Regions from separate parts of the Homo sapiens genome. Here regions 2 and 3 are each linked to region 1. Evidence: fine-mapped expression QTL. A gene starts in region 1. Each other region holds a variant in brackets. All regions are shown on one strand. Distances are from middle to middle. Region 1 holds the start of PPIF (peptidylprolyl isomerase F). Region 2 overlaps ZMIZ1 (zinc finger MIZ-type containing 1). Region 3 has its middle 32 kb from the start of PPIF.

Region 1 (5,216 bases):
AAGGGCTGGGCATGTGTTCAGCTCATGGCTTAGCCTATAGACTATCCTTCTTCCTGATACCACTGAGAACAGAACAGGAAGGGATGACATCATAGCTAAGCCTTTGGGGAAGGTAGGCTTTTCTCTGGCTTAGGAGGTAGTGATGACGTTTGATTTTCCAAAGAGAGTGGAAGGAGTAACATGAATGAAAGAAGCTGGTTCCCAGTCCAGAGTCCTCAGCATGGAGTCTTTGCACTATTCATGGCTCCCCAGTGCTATCCAACAATGTCAGACCTCAGCCAGGCCTTCAGAGCCCTCTGTGATTGGGTCCCCACAGGCCTTTCAGCTCATGCTCACTATTAAAACCATCTCCCTAGTCCCTGAGCTCCATAGCCCCCTGGCCAACTCCACCGTTTCTATCTTACTGTGTTGTCTGCCCAGGCTTATCTCTCTTGCCTCCCCACCCTGTCCCAAGGACCAGCTTCGTGGTGAGAGTGAGAAGGGTTTGACATGCAATAACCCTGATTGTGAAGTCAGACAGACTGGTCCCAGTTCCAACAGCCTGCCCTTGGGCAATTCACTCCCCAGCCCCTGGGGCCTGGCTTCCCCATCTGCAAAACAGAGCTGTCTCTCAGGCAGAGTTCACAGCTGGGAAAGGGTTCTGAGAACTGAAGTGGTCAAGTGAATGAAGGCAGCACTCCCCTGGGGTGGGGATGCTCATGCTTCATCAGGATGGGGCATAAACTGAGTCCCCCCAGGAGCAGGCTTGAGAAACAACAGGGTACGCTGAGCTACCTGCTGTGGCTGAAGGTCCTGTGAGCTCAGGGCCTGGAACTGGCCGCAGGGAAGCCTGGGGCCTTAAGGAAGCTTCATGACAAGGCACATGGCGTGATTCCTCCACTCTCAAATCCACAGGATGCACTGGTAGAGGAAGGTCTGGGACATGTGCTGAGGGCTCAAGTGGGCTCCCCACTCAGGCCTGCTCACCTCAGGGCACAATCATAAGAAAGGAGGGGCTGCTCCCCAGGGCAGAGTGAGGCCCCATTCTGGGCTGGGACCTGGAATGCATCCCACCTGGGCTTCACTGGGTGCCTAGGCCCCTCCTAGGCCAGGAATCGGAGAAGGGGGCTATGAACTTCCAGAAGCCAAGCTAGCCAAACTTCCAGAGGCCAAGCTAGCATTCTTATGAAGCTAGGGCACTGCTCTGACCTCATGAATTTGCTTGGCTGGCATTTTGCTGCCTGACCTGTTCCCATGAGCCCATTCAGGATCTGGGGCAGGTCAGTCCAGAGCTGGTCCCTACTCCTGCCCACCTGCCTCCAAGGCTCAGCCCCACCCCTTTCTCTGACCCCTCAGGCCTCTAACTGAGACCGCAGCTCTCTGAATCCCAAACTGTGAGAAAGACAGTCCAGACTCTGTCCATCACAGATGCCCACAGGCACAGTACTTAGTTGACAAATCCATGTCTCTCTCGTTCATTTTATCCTAAGAACAGACACGAGAAAAAAGCAGGATGAGGAGCATGATCGCACCCTTACCCTCCAGATGGGAAACTGAGGCCCAGAGAGGCCTGGAGCACTGGTGCAAGCTGGTAGCAATACTCCAGGGCTCCCTAGCCCTAGCCAGTGCCTTCCTGTGTCCAGGCCTCAGCTTCCCCTGGGGACAGTACAAGTGTTGGGCCAGATGCTCTCTCAGGTCCCTGCGTGGCATCCATTTATTGCAGACCTCCCACCACCTTGCAGTGAGGGTGGCTCTGGCTGCTGGGAAGCCCACTTTCAGCACGTGGGGTTTAAATGCTCCTGCTGTGGGTCTCCCCACTGAGTCCCCTCCCAGGGTGCATGCTGATGGGAGGGGGCAGCTGGCAGTCTGCCCCGGGGCTGTCAGTGTGGGTCCTAGGAGGAGGGATCAGACCCAGTCCTGGGGAGGGCTGGGGGCCTGAAAGGAGCATGATGAGCCCAGGCTGCGTTTTCAGTCTTGCTAGAAGCAGGTCTGGTCCCCAGAAACAACTAGAGACAGGCCCAGGCCGGGACAAGCAGGCTAGGGGGCATCATGGGAGGTGTCTCAGCTTATCTCCTCCCTCTTGCGCCTCTAGCTCACTAATCCCGCCTCTCATCTCACCTTTCTCTAACCCTCTCAGACTGCAGGACCTAGGGCAGCAGGGAAGCTTATTTGGCCTGAGCCTTACCTGCAAAGGGCTCAAAGGTAGACTTTTGCTATTATATTCAAATTGCAACGTATAGATGCTCATATTTTGGAATTAATTACGTTTTAGCAGTTTTTCTTTTTTTAAAAAAATCTGCTGGTACCTTAATAAACATGGAACCAGCAACCTTTTGCCAGGTGTCTGTTCTCCGGGTCTCTGGGCCTGGAGGCGGGAGTGTTTCAAAGCACTTCACGCTCCGCGGCCCCACCGGCTGGCTGCGCTGCCCGCTGCGGCCGGCAGGGGTAGTCCACGGACAGGCCTGGAGGAGGCGGGACGGGGGCAGGGCCGGGAACCTGGGCAAGCCAATAAAGGCTGCGGCGCGCGGCTGCGCGGGACTCGGCCTTCTGGGCGCGCGCGACGTCAGTTTGAGTTCTGTGTTCTCCCCGCCCGTGTCCCGCCCGACCCGCGCCCGCGATGCTGGCGCTGCGCTGCGGCTCCCGCTGGCTCGGCCTGCTCTCCGTCCCGCGCTCCGTGCCGCTGCGCCTCCCCGCGGCCCGCGCCTGCAGCAAGGGCTCCGGCGACCCGTCCTCTTCCTCCTCCTCCGGGAACCCGCTCGTGTACCTGGACGTGGACGCCAACGGGAAGCCGCTCGGCCGCGTGGTGCTGGAGGTGAGACCGCTCGCAGGGCCGGCCTGGGCGCGGGACACGGGCCCGGGGAGAGCCCTGGGCCCCGGGCGGCGCGGTGCCGGGCGCGCTGGGTGACCTTGGGCCTCCCCATGCCGAGCTCTGGGCCTCAGTTTCCCCATTTCTGAGAATGGGCGTCAGAATGATTTCTTCCGGCCTCCCTCGGAGCACTGGAGCGGGGGAGACGGGAGGGAGGGCACGTGTGGAGGAGAAAGCTCAAGGTCAGATCGCAGAGAGGGAGGGCTCAGCACCTCTGGGCCGGCCCGGGCACGAGGGAGGGGCTCCAGGAGCCTTCTGGGGCTGAGCCTAGATCCGGAGCTCCGAGGTGGGTGTCGGGGGTCTTGGGGTGAGCGTCGTGGCCCAGCGGGTGCTCACGTGGCGGCCCTTGCACAACACGGAGCGCTTCCTGGCTCCGGCCCCGCCCCTGCGGTCGGGCTCACACTGGGGGTGCTGGGAAATGGAGCGAGAGGTGGTTTCCAGCAGTAGTGCGGGCCCAGTAGGCCTCAGGCCCCGGCCACCTGGTGGACCCCAGAATGCCCCTCCTGCGAGTCGGGACACACTCAGAGACAGTGTGCCCGGCGCCTCAACCCCTGCCACTGTCCTTGGGGGCCACACTGAGCACCTCCCCTAACTCTGTTTTTGGGTCTTTTCTAAAGCAAAGTAAGAAACAGTCACCAGGGTAGCTTTAGAGGGAAAGCCCTAGTGGAGCCTTCAGGTCGGCCACACATTGACAGCAGGGGTCTGTTTGTGTTGACTGGCCCGTATCCCAGGGAGCCCTTAGTATTTCTTCTTCATTCTCAGTTTCTTCTGGAAAATAGGGACACCCTTCCTGCTTCCATTTGGTTCCAGGGTGGGTCTTGCAGCTTCGAGGGTAGAGGCTGGCTGGGATGGGGCTTCAGCCTTCCCTCCCCACACCCTCATGCCTCTCCCTGGGCCTCAGTTTCCCAACCCCGAATGGAGGAGCTGGTCTGGCTTCTACCTTAGACACACTCTCTTGTCCCTGAATTTCTGATGCTTTGGGCCCAGCTGTGGGAGCACTGCCAGCTGTGTCCACAGAAGTAGGCCAAGATAGCATTGTCATCTCTTCTGACAGATTAGGAAACCAAGGCCACCTCCTCCAGCCTTGGGTTCAGGAAACGGCTCCCAGAAATGATAGAGCTGCCTCCCATGGGGGTTGGCAATAATGGGAATGGAATGTCCACGTGCTTCTTCCTTAGCCTCCTTGGCCACTGTGGGGGTGGGTGGGTGCTGAGAGACACCCACCTTCACCTGCCTCTCCAATGACCATCCTCTTTTGTCCTTCTTCTCCCCCAACAGCTGAAGGCAGATGTCGTCCCAAAGACAGCTGGTAAGACAGGGCCTGGGGCCTTCTGAGATGGGTCTAGAGGGAAGGGGGCCAGGCAGGGCAAGGTGGGTGGCGTGATGAGAAGAGTCGGGGCTCAGAGACCCCTGACAGATGGGAGCTCCATGTGTGGCTCAGCCATTGGGTGCTCTGGGGCAGCCCTGCCATCCCTCTCTGGGCCTCAACGTTGGCTCTGCCCTCCTCTCTCATAGTAGCTGGGAGCCTCAGAGCCAGTGGAAGGCACATGTAAATTTCCCGGAGACTTCCCCACTCCTGGTGCCCAGTGAGGCAGGGTGATGGGCACACAGCCCTTGAGTCCGTGCCCTGCTGGCCAGCACAGCCATGAGCCTGTACTCTTGTCACAGTGCTCAGGTACTGAGGACAGGGAAGGGGAGTGACTTGTCCAGTTACATAGCGAGTTGGGCAGAGCAGACCCAAGAGGTGGGCCAGAGTCTTTATCCCCCTGTTCACTGCTGGGGATGTAGCAGGGATTTTGGCTGGAACGGGTATGACCCTGGAATTGGGGCCTGGCCCTGTTGACCTGTGTTTCTCTTCGACCCTCAGAGAACTTCAGAGCCCTGTGCACTGGTGAGAAGGGCTTCGGCTACAAAGGCTCCACCTTCCACAGGGTGATCCCTTCCTTCATGTGCCAGGTAATGTAGTTTCCTCTTCTGTAAGGGGGGATGAGAGCAGGAGCTGCCTTGTGGGTGTGTGAAGATGCCTGGTATGAGGAAGGTGCTGAGCAGAGCAGCTGCAGTTGCTCTGTCAGCCAGGCTGCCCTCCCTGCATTAGCCCTGTATCCAGGCTTCACTGCACATGGAAGCCCAGCCCCAACCCGCTGCCACTCCAGGTCAGTGGCAGGCCCTGCCCGGGGGACTGGGAGGTGGAGTCTATCAAGAGAGAGCTGGGTTGGGAGATGGATGTGCTGGGGGTGGCCTTGAAGACTTTGAAGAGCCAGCATATTCCAGTGGTCTCTGACCTTGTCCCCTGTGTGCCCCTGAGCACTGGTGTGGGAGATAAGAGAGGGAGAGAGAGAAGTGGAGGAGGCGGAGGAGGAAGACAGGTCCA
Region 2 (5,216 bases), 33 kb before region 1:
GTGTGTGTCTGTCTCCAGTTTTCTTGTCCGCGTGTTGTCCATGCCCTGCTTCTGCTTGCTCCATCGCTCACTCCAAGAGGCCCCCATGTGGGTGACAGAAGGTGGGGGCAGAGGGGGCAGCCTTGGGTCACAGCCAGGGGCAGCAGGCCATCATGGGCAGCAGAGGTGCCAGGGCTCCTACCCTGAGGTCTGGAAGATGGTGGGGGTCACCCTGGATGATGGGGCTGGGCTGCTGGATGGGGCTGGCGGGATGGGACTGAGCACCGGCCCCGCCCATGCCTACACAGAGCTGGTGCCAGACTCCGGGAGGAGGCTTGTCCTCGGCCCCTCCTGTTCTTCACCCCCAGCCCTGCTCTGTCAGCCTCTGCCCTGCAGCATCAGAGGAGCTCTGTGCTAGCTAGGACTCACTCACTGTGCAGCCATCTCAGGTCCTTGCCCAGTGTTCCCCCTCAAACCAGGCCAGTGGGGCTGCTTTTAGATGCATGAGGCTCCCCATGTGACAGACTCCAAGGATATCTCAGTAGAGGGTAGAGACAGTCTGCATCCCCTCCGGGGCCACAGGGAAGGATGGCTGCCAGCCAGCCACAGGCTCACCAAGGAGTGGCGAGCCCTTGAGAAGAGGGATGTTGGGGGGTTGGGGGCGGTGCAGGAACCACTCGCCTTCCCGCCTTCCCACCAGCCCACCTCCTTGTGCTTACACGTGAAGCATGTGATTTCAGCTGGGAGGCCCAAGTGACCTGCCATGGGGCCTTCCCAGGTTAGGGCTGAAGTCCATGCCTGAAAAGGGTCAGCCCTGCTCAGGCCTCAGCTGGTGGGCTGCGGGTCCCAATCCTGAGGCTTGAAATGAGCATGGGGGTGCCCCACACTCGGTGCAGTGGCCGGGGTATGTGTGGGGATACCTGGCAGGCCCAAGCCCAAGGCTGTTCTCTACCCCTTTTTTTGGCTAGGGTCCTGAGAGGCAGGTGGAGGGGGACGGGCCAGGGCGCCCCTGCATTCCTCACCCGGGGCCTGCCTCTCAGGCACACCTCATCTGAACTTCATTACTCCTTCTTTTCCAGCTCCTTCCCGAACTCACAAATCCTGACGAGCTCCTGTCTTATCTGGACCCCCCCGACCTGCCGAGCAATAGTAACGATGACCTCCTGTCTCTATTTGAGAACAACTGAGGGCCACCCGGTCGGGGCCATCCCTCCACACTCTGCATCCTACCCCACCTACCCAACACACTTTTCCACCTGGGAGCCTGTGCCCTCAGACCGCCCCGCACCAGAGCCACGGGCTGTGGGGCGGGGAGCCCTCCCCCGCTGCAGCCCTCTCAGAACAGAGGGGTAGGGAGGGTGCACCAGTGCACCAGGAAGGCTGTGTGGGTCTGGAGCCCACGTCCCACCTCCACACCCTTGGCTTGGGCCCATGCCCAGCGCAGGCCTGAAGACCACCCTCCCGAGAGGAACCAGCCCGGTAAGAGGGCACACGCTGATGCGGCTTCCCGGTCCCTCCGCGTGTGCCGATTCCAGATGACCTTCCAGTGTCCCCAAGGTTCTTCCATCTTCTAGACTGTAACCCTGCCTCCCTGCTTCCTGGTCCAGAGCCTCCCTCCAGTGACTGTGGAGCCTGAGAAGGCCCCCGGGCCCCAGCATGGGCCCCGAGCCTTGGAGGAGCACTGGCAGTTGGTGGCAGTGAGACCAGCCCACCCACCACCACCCACCACAGAAAAGCACAAACCTCTGGGAAAGACAACGTCTCTCGGGGGCCAGGGGTCATCGGTTTGACCCCTGACCTATAAGCCAAGATACCCCATAAACACACTCAGAAAGCAGAGAAAAAGGACAAGAGTCTGTGTTTGAGAGGGGGTCTGCCATTCCTGCTTGGGGACTGGTGGGGAAGAGGGCCAGGACATCTTCTGAGCCAGGACGTCCCTGAGGCTCCACCTCCAAGCTCAGACAGGGCCCAGGCTTGGGGAACAGAGAGAGCAGGTGTACACCCAACCAAAGTGATTGTGCCCTTGGTTGGGGGGCGCGGGCATATAACCTGTCAGAAGCAAACAGGAGCGGCAACTTCTAACTTTGCTCCAAGCCACTCTCTTTTTAAACAGCAACAATTTAAAGCTATGAAGTCACCTGGAGAAAAGGAACGTTGCTCTTGGACAGCAAGCAAACCATTTCTCTCCGTCTGTT[C/G]TGTTTTTCTCCTAGTCCCTCTCCTGCCACCTCTCCAAGACTTCCGTGGGACACCCACTTCCCTCTGTCCTAGTTCTCTTTGTCCAATCAGATGGCAAGGGCAGTGCGTGGAAAGGCCGGGGAGGTGCAGAAACCAGAGCCCAGGGCAATGGTGTCTGTCCAGCCCCTCCCTCTGTCCCTGTGCTCCAAGCTGCCCCCGGCTGCAGCCCAGGCCATGGACATGTGCACCAGTATGTACCTGCAGGCATGGGGGGGAGGGGGGCGTGTTTCTGGGCCTGCCCCAGACACTGCCCTTGGCTGCCAGCCTACCCTGCCTGCACTCCTCCACCATCACAATCTCACCCAAACTCCTGCTCACTCAAGCAAAAGCAGCCTCTGGCCTTCCCTCCACCGCTTTGCTCCATCTGGCTTACCACTCTCCAGGGCCTCCTGGGGAGCCTGTCCTGTGTTCACTTTGTTTCAGGCTGGTCTGTGCCCCGTGAGCCACATGGCCTAGGGTGATGCCAGGTTGTCCCGTCACTGGGGTCCCATCTGTAAATTCTTTGCGCCCTTCCCGGCTGCTGCCTGGGGCCCTTTCCTGCTCTCCCGTCCGCTGTGGGTGGTCCCCAGCTCTCCTCTGTGGGTTTTACCGGAAAGGTGGCCCCAGCTGTTGACTTCCAGTCACTGTCCCAGACGGCACAAGGTTTTCTGTAGGAAAGCTGCCATTGCCCCGGCCCCTTTTCTTCCTTTGTCCCGTTGTCGAGGTTTTTTCAAATAGCGTGTTGTTCAGTATGCAAATCAATTATTTTAAGAATCGCTTTTGTAAATATCTTTGTGAATATTTTAGTATCGTCTTTGATAATATTCAACATTTTCATGACCTGGTTATAGCCTTTGCTGGTGTTTTTAAAATACCTGGACTCAATGACAAAGACCGAGTCTTCTTTTTTTTTAAACAAAAACAAAAAAAGCAACCAGGGCTATTTGTACAGTTGAAGGGGTGAACAGAATGGGCGGCTGTGCTGGGAGTTGGAAGACCGGGCAGCCCGCTATTTAGAGCCATCCCTCAGTCAGCTGGCAGGGACAAGCCAACGCCAGGTAGCATGTGGCCACCCTTGCCCAGTGTCTGTGGCCTGGCAAGTGGCCACGCCCTGTGTCAGACCATCTGGGAATTAAGCTCCAGACAGACTTACAGATGCCTTCCTTAGGAGTTCTTGCTTCTTGCGTTGATACTTTGCCCCAGAAAGGCCTGGGATTCATTCTGGTTCTTATCAGGGTGTGTCCACACTCTGCTCACAGGTGGATCCACGGCTTTCCAGTGCGGAGAGTCGAGATGCTCCCTGCAGCCCAGGCCCCGGGCACCTCCTGCAACCATCTCTGGGCTCAGCACCTGAGGCGGGTTTCCTGGGTCCCCTCTCCAGCAAGCCTCCACCAGCAAGCTCGGCCCAGAGCTTCCCTTCCGGCTGGCTCTGAACCGTGCGTGGTGCCTACAGCCTGCAGTCTGGAGACAAGCTCTTCCGGAGTGCTCTGGGAGCCAGGCCAGGGTGTGAGGGAGGTGCAGAGGCATCCGGGGCGGGAGCAAGCCCCAGGTTGTGACAGGTGCAGGTAGACAACGCCCATAAACAGAGATGGTCCTGAACTCTGGAGAGATCCTTCCCTGATCCTTTCGGACGACTACTTGGAGCCATAAGTAACCTCAGCAAAAACGAGGCCTCTGCAAGCCACTTTTCCATGCCAAGCATCCACCCGGCCCACAGGCATGTTTCTGCCGCCACTCCGCAAGATGGACAGGGAGCCAGCAGGCAGGCGGGAAGGGCCAAGTACAGGCAATCACCCCCATCTTCTTGGTTTGAAGCTTTATCCATGTATCATGTTCCGTGTAGCCATTTTATTTTTTAAGAAACTGCTAATACTTTCTCCCTAATGGAAGCCCTGATCCCCCAGAGAGCTACAGGTCTGCTCCCGACGGGCCTCGGGCCTGACCCGTCCACACAGGGCCGTGTCAACAGCAGCGACTCAAGGGACGTGTGTACATATGTAAATGAGAAATAGAGACGTGTCAACAGATGCATTCATTTCTCTTGGAATGTGTATTGTTTTTATTTTGCGAAACAAAACAAAACAAAAAAAAAAGCTTGGAACTCCATCACGTGGAAAAACTAGATCCTGTTGGTTATAGCATTTGTGAGTTCTCCACGTCTGTCTCTCTCGCTCATGTAATATACTCTGACCCTGAGTGGAAAGGGGTTTTTGTTCTGTTTTTATTTTACCTACATGTACTATTTAGCTTCAGTGTACTAGTCCTGCCACCTGTGTATTTTTAGGGTGCTATGGAAATAATGAAAAGAAACGGGGATTTCAGAAGAAAATTGTAACCAAATTCATACTTTGTATAATTTTTGATATCATGATCACAGGTGATTCACACGTACACACATAAACACACCCACCAGTGCAGCCTGAAGTAACTCCCACAGAAACCATCATCGTCTTTGTACATCGTATGTACAATGCAATCATTTCATACTTTAAACTGGTCAAAAAACTAATTGTGATTTCTAGTCTTGCAAAGCTGTATGTAGTTAGATGATGTGACAACCTCTAATATTTATCTAATAAATATGTATTCAGATGAAACCTGTATATTAGGTGTTCATGTGGTTATTTTGTATTTAAAGATCAAATTATTTGACTATTGCTAGACATTTCTATACTCTGTTGTAACACTGAGGTATCTCATTTGCCCATGTTAATTTTTTTCTAAATAAATTGACAAAAACAAAGGTTTGGCGAATTAGCTATTTTGTGGATGTTAAGGAGTGGTTTGGGTGTTTTTGCTTTTGTTTTAAACCACACCCCCCGCCCTGTTACCCTCTGCACACACAAAAAAGAAAGGCAGGTGGTTTGGGTGTTGAATTGGAAGAACCCCTGTCCATGGGGGTCCCTGGAACCAGTCCCTGGTGGGGCAAGTGCAGTGTGTGGCCGGATGGTTGGGGGAGTTGGGGTGGCTGAATAGGGCCAGGTGGCTGCAGGGTGCTAGGGGCCCCTGTGGCATGTGACTCA
Region 3 (5,216 bases), 32 kb after region 1:
GTGTGCAAATGGGTGTGTATGTGAGGGTGTCAACAGTGTGAGATGTGTATGAGTGCATGTGTGAGATGCATGTGAGTGCGTGTGTGAGATGTGTGTGTGGGTGTGAGATTGTGTGTGCATGTGTGAGTGCACGTGTGAGATGTGAGTGCCTGTGTGAGATGTGTGTGTGAGATGTGTGTGTACGTGTGAGATGTAAGTGCGTGTGTGAGATTTGTGAGTGCATGTGTGAGATGTGTGTGCACGTGTGAGATGTGTGAGTGCATGTGTGAGATGTGTGTGCACATGTGTGTGGGTGTGAGATGTGTGAGTGCAGGTGTGAGATGTGAGTGCGTGTGTGAGATGTGTGTGCACGTGAGATGTGTGAGGGTGTGCATGTGAGATGTGTGTGAGTGCACTGCAAGATGTGTGTGTGCATGTGGGAGATGTGAGTGCGTGTGTGAGGTGTGTGCACATGAGATGTGTGAGGGTGTGCATGTGAGGTGTGAGTGCACATGTGAGGTGTGTGGGTGTGCATATGAGGTGTGAGGATGCATGTGTGAGATGTGTGAGGGTGTGCGTGTGAGGTGTGTGGGTGTGCATGTGAGATATGAGTGCACGTGTGAGAAGTGAGTGCACATGTGAGATGTGTGAGGGTACACGTGTGAGATGTGTGTGGGTGCGCATGTGAGATGTGAGTGCGCATGTGAGTTGTGTGAGGGTGCGTGTGAGATGTGTGCATGCGTGTGTGAGATGTGAGGGTGCGTGTGTGATGTGTGGGTGCACGTGTGAGATGTAAGAGGGTGCATGTGTGAGATGTGTGAGGGTGCACATGTGAGATATGTATGTGGGTGCGTGAGTTGTGTATGAGTGCGCGTGTGAGATGTGTGTGAGTGCGCGTGTGACATTTGAGGGTGCGAATGTGAGATGTGTGAGGGTGCACGTGTGAGATGAGGGTCTGTGTGTGAGATGTGTGAAGGTGCACACGGGAGATGTGTGAGGGTGCGCATGTGAGATGTGTGAGGGTGCACGTGTGAGACGTGTGGGTGCGCGTGTGAGATGTGAGTGCACGTGTGAGATTTGTGGGTGCGTGTGTGAGATTTGTGGGTACACGTGTGATATGTGAGTGTGCGTGTGAGATGTGAGTGCGCATGTGAGATGTGAGGGTGCACATGTGAGATGTGTGAGGATTCACGTGTGAGATGTGAGGGTGCATGTGTGAGATGTGGGTGTGTGAGATGTGTGAGGGTGCACGTGTGCGGTGTGGGTGCGTGTGTGAGATGTGTGAGTGCACGTGTGAGATTTGTGGGTGCACGTGTGAGATGTGTGAGTGCGCATGTGAGATGTGTGGGTGCACGTGCGAGATGTGTGGGTGTGTGAGATGTGTGTATGAGATGTGAATGCATGTGTAAGATGTGTGAGGGAGCACGTGTGAGATGTGTGAGTGCATGTGCGAGATGTGTGGGTGTGTGAGATGTGTGTGAGAGATGTGAGTGCACGTGTGAGATGTGTGGGTGCGTGTGTGAGATGTGTGTGGGTGTGTGTGTGAGATGTGCGAGGATGCGTGTGAGGTGTGTGAGCATGTGAGATGTGAGTGCACTGTGAGATGTGAGGGTGCACGTGTGAGCTGTGTGGGTGTGCACATATGAGATGTGTGAGTGCACGTGTGAGATGTGTGTGGGTGCATGTGTGATGTGTATGGGATGTGAGTGAGCGTGTGAGATGTATGGGTGCACGTGTGAGATGTGTGTGAATGTACGTGTGGATGTGTGAGTGTGCGCATGAAATGTGTGTGGGTGCGTGTGAGATGTGTGTGTGCGTGTGAGATGTGTGAGGGTGCCCGTGTGAGATGTGTGTGTGTGAGATGTGTGAGGGTGTGGGTGTGAGATGTGTGAGTGTGTGTGTGAGATGTGCGAAGGTGCGCGTGTGAGATGTGTGAGGATGCGTGTGTGTGTGGGCAGGGGGAAGCAAGTGGCCCTGACATCTCAGTTGGGATCCAGCCTCAGAACAAACGGCAGGGAAAGTGTCGAGAGTGGCCTTTATACCCAAGCGCAGCCCGTTCTTGGCTCCCTCCAGTTCTCTGGGGGAGTAGCAAGGACACCTGACTTTGGAGAGATGGCAAGCCCACCTCGGCCCTCATTCCCTTCATCTGGGGTATTCCCTGCCCCTTCTCCCCACTTCCAAACACCTGGGCAGGAGCCGGGCACAGGCTGCACAGGAGGCAGCCCCTGGAAGGGTGGCATTCAGATGCCTAGCCCTGGGTTTACCAGGCTGTAGGGAGGAGGACCAGGGTCTCTGAGGAGGGCAGGTGGGGGCTTGACTCCCCAGCAGACTATGGGTCCCAGGCTTAGCTCAGAGCTCTGGGCCAGGTCCCAGGACACACTGACAGACAGCTGTTTGCTGAAGGAAGGACTGGACAGGCTGGTGGGAATCCGCTCGGTGGCCCTGGTCAGGATCGGAAACAGCGCAGACAGTGGAGGTTGAAGGGTGTGGTGGAGGTCCCTGCTTGTCAATCTGGGGCAGCAGGGCTTCCCCAGGCCTCAGTTTATGCACCCGACATACTGACATGTTGTTCTCTGCCCTGGCTTCTGCCAGGACTGTTAGGAGGATGCATGAGGCCAGAAAACCGGGAGGAACTCCAGCCTATGGCCGGAGTCCAGCGCAGAAGCCGGCTGGTAGCCTGAGCCTGGGAGCTTCAGCACCACAGTGGGGGCTGGTGGGAGAGAGGTGGCCACCCCAGGGCTGTGTGCGGGAGCTGCCCAGGTGTCTCCTGCCACTCAGTGTGTCCTGATTGCCCCCAGCTTACAGATAAGGACATGAGGCTCTGTGTCACACATTCCAAGTAGAGCCTTGTCAGGGTCCTGCCAGGGGGGGCCCTGGGCTCCCGATGGGCTCTGGTGCTCAGGCGGTTGAGCTCCCGCTGTCTCTCCCCAGGCCAGGTCTCCCCTCTCTGTGTCTGGAGCAGATGCCAAGGGGGCTCCTCACAACCTGGCAACCATCACCACTTGGCACC[A/G]ACCTACCCCACCTCCCTTCCTCCTGCCTGGTCTCTTGCCCTTTGAGACCACCCAGCCCTGGACCCTCACTCCTGGTCTGACCTTTGCAACTCTGTGTCTGTCCCAGCTCTGCCCTGATACGCTGCACTGGGAGGTGAGAACTCCAAGTTCAATCAAATCCTGGCTCTGCCACCTGCCTGCTGGGTGAGTGTGCTAGGTGAGACCTTTCCCGGTGGGGCCTCAGCTTTAGCCCAGAGCAGGGCCACCCTCTCTGGATCCCTTGCCGGCCATTTCTTTGGTGGACTCTGCTCTCTCCTGGGTCCTCAGCAGCCAGCTGCCTCTGGATATGGGCACTGAGTCCAACCGGAAATCCTTCCTGTCCAGGGAGTTACTGGTTTCCACGGCTCCAGGAGATGTTGAAATGCAGGCTGTTTGCCTTGGGTTTGTGTTCTTTCCACAGAAAACAAAACAAAACAAACACACAGGCGCATGCACACTGCCACACACTCAAAGACAAGGGCATGTCATCAAATAACAGCCCTGAAGCCCCAGCCTCAACATGCATGGGTGCCCAGTCAATGCTTACTGGGTGCGCAAAAGCACCTGGGGCCCTGGGTTCGAGGCCTGGCTCCCTGCGGAATCCCTGGTGTGATCACTGGTCGGATGCTTCTGCCTGAGCCACAGACAGTGGGAACAGGAGACCCACACTCCCCGGGCCCCTCCTGGGTGCAAGCAGTGCGCTTTGTCTTGTGTTCAGTGGGTTGTCTTATCCACACAACACCCCGGGGAGAGCTGGGGCTTGGAGAGGGGGAAAGCCACCCAGTGTCACACAGCTGGGGTGGCAGGGCTGGCCTGGTGGCAGTGCTGAAGGGGACAGGAGGACCCTGAGACAGACACCGGCTCTGTTTCCTCAGATCTGCCCAAGAAGAGCAATAGCCCCACCCAGGCTGCTGGAGGACTTGAGCTGGCAGAGGGCATGGTGTGGAGGAGGGGGTCCATTCTCCTCTCACCCTGGCGGAGATGGGTCCCCTCTCCACTCCCTTGCTGGGCCCGACTGGCAGCCACCTGCTTTCAGGCCAGTGACTCTGGCCATTCCACACACTGAGGGCAGGCACCGCGCAGGGAATTCTCTAGATGCAAATCAGCAGGAAGGGGCTTTGTTCTGGGATTTGCTCTGTACCCCAAATAAGACAGGAGGTCTGGCCTTGGTGGCCTCTGTTCCTGCCTTTCCCTCCCCCTTCACATCCATGGTCCCTGACCCCAAGGACTGGCATTTTGTTTTCTCTGCTCCATCTCAGAGGCCACAGTCAGGGGCCGTGGGATGGCCCATAGGGATGTGCTTTGACTTCTACACTATTCAAAAATCCAGTTAACTCTTTAACTCGTTGCCAAAATTTAAAACATGGAAAATTTCACATAACAACTGGGATTTCCAGTTTTTCTCCTGCTGCCCCTCCCTCCCTCCCCAGGCAACAACATTCATAGATAGCAACAGTTGGCTGGAGCTGAGGACCGGGCGCCCCCTTGACAGGACTCTCTGCCCCCTGCCTCCTCCCCATCACCGTGGGTCCCACAGGAACACTAGGGACCATCTGAAGTCCAGTGCTGCTCAACTTTGGATGCACAATGGACTGAGCTGGGGGGCTTTACAAACTCAGACACCCTGGACCACTTCCTTGGCCTCCCTGGGGTGGGACCAAGGCATGATGTTCTTAAAGCCCCGCAGGTGACTCAGGTGAGCAGCAAGGTTGAGAACAGCAAGAGCCGATGCTGGGCTTTGCAGGTGGGTGGCTGCTGATAGTCTTGCTTCGTTGTGGTTCCCCATGACCCTCAGCAGGAGCCCCACCTCATGACAGCCCAGGCTTTGGTCAGAAGAGGGGCCCCTGCCCCGTCTCCCCTGGACTGATCTGTTTGCTCACTGTGTGATGCTCCCTGTCTGGGCCCATATCCTGATCTTGGCCGAGTGTGCCAAGTGGGAGCGGCCCAGGGCTGCCGTCTCTGAGGCAGATTCACTCCTATATATGGTCACCCGGGAGTCCCCCCGCTGAGTGAACGCGTGACCTCATCTGCCGACAATCTCACCCAGTCTGGGGCCAACCTGGGGAGGGCCGTTGCCCTGGAGAGTGTACAGTTGGGGGCAGAGAGGCTGGGAGGAGGCAAATCAATGGCATGGAGGCAGGGCAATGACAAGATGACCCAGACCCAGGGGAGCTGAGGCCAGCCCCAAGTCTCTCTGATGCCTGCCCC

Evidence for each region.
Region 2: its variant is fine-mapped to the expression of PPIF in whole blood (TOPMed, PIP above 0.99).
Region 3: its variant is fine-mapped to the expression of PPIF in blood mononuclear cells (TOPMed, PIP above 0.99).

What each region holds. Positions count from the first base shown.
Region 1 is chr10:79,344,953-79,350,168 of GRCh38, forward strand. PPIF (peptidylprolyl isomerase F) reads left to right here and starts at 2,517. Exons shown (of 6, transcript NM_005729.4): 1 at 2,517-2,791; 2 at 4,124-4,154; 3 at 4,713-4,801. The coding sequence starts at 2,597. RefSeq lists cis regulatory regions at 2,184-2,761, 2,261-3,302, 2,261-2,934, 2,261-2,812, 2,261-2,811 and 5 more, silencers at 2,291-2,700, 2,721-2,950 and an enhancer at 4,265-4,765.
Region 2 is chr10:79,311,584-79,316,799 of GRCh38, forward strand. ZMIZ1 (zinc finger MIZ-type containing 1) reads left to right here. Exons shown (of 25, transcript NM_020338.4): 25 at 1,059-4,936. The coding sequence ends at 1,166. Among named protein-coding and RNA genes, the nearest start is that of PPIF, 33 kb to the right of the region's middle. RefSeq lists enhancers at 197-697, 1,455-1,954 and cis regulatory regions at 4,996-5,216, 5,022-5,216, 5,028-5,216. The variant C/G (reference allele first, on the strand shown) is at 2,175.
Region 3 is chr10:79,377,042-79,382,257 of GRCh38, forward strand. No RefSeq gene overlaps it. Among named protein-coding and RNA genes, the nearest start is that of PPIF, 32 kb to the left of the region's middle. The variant A/G (reference allele first, on the strand shown) is at 2,990.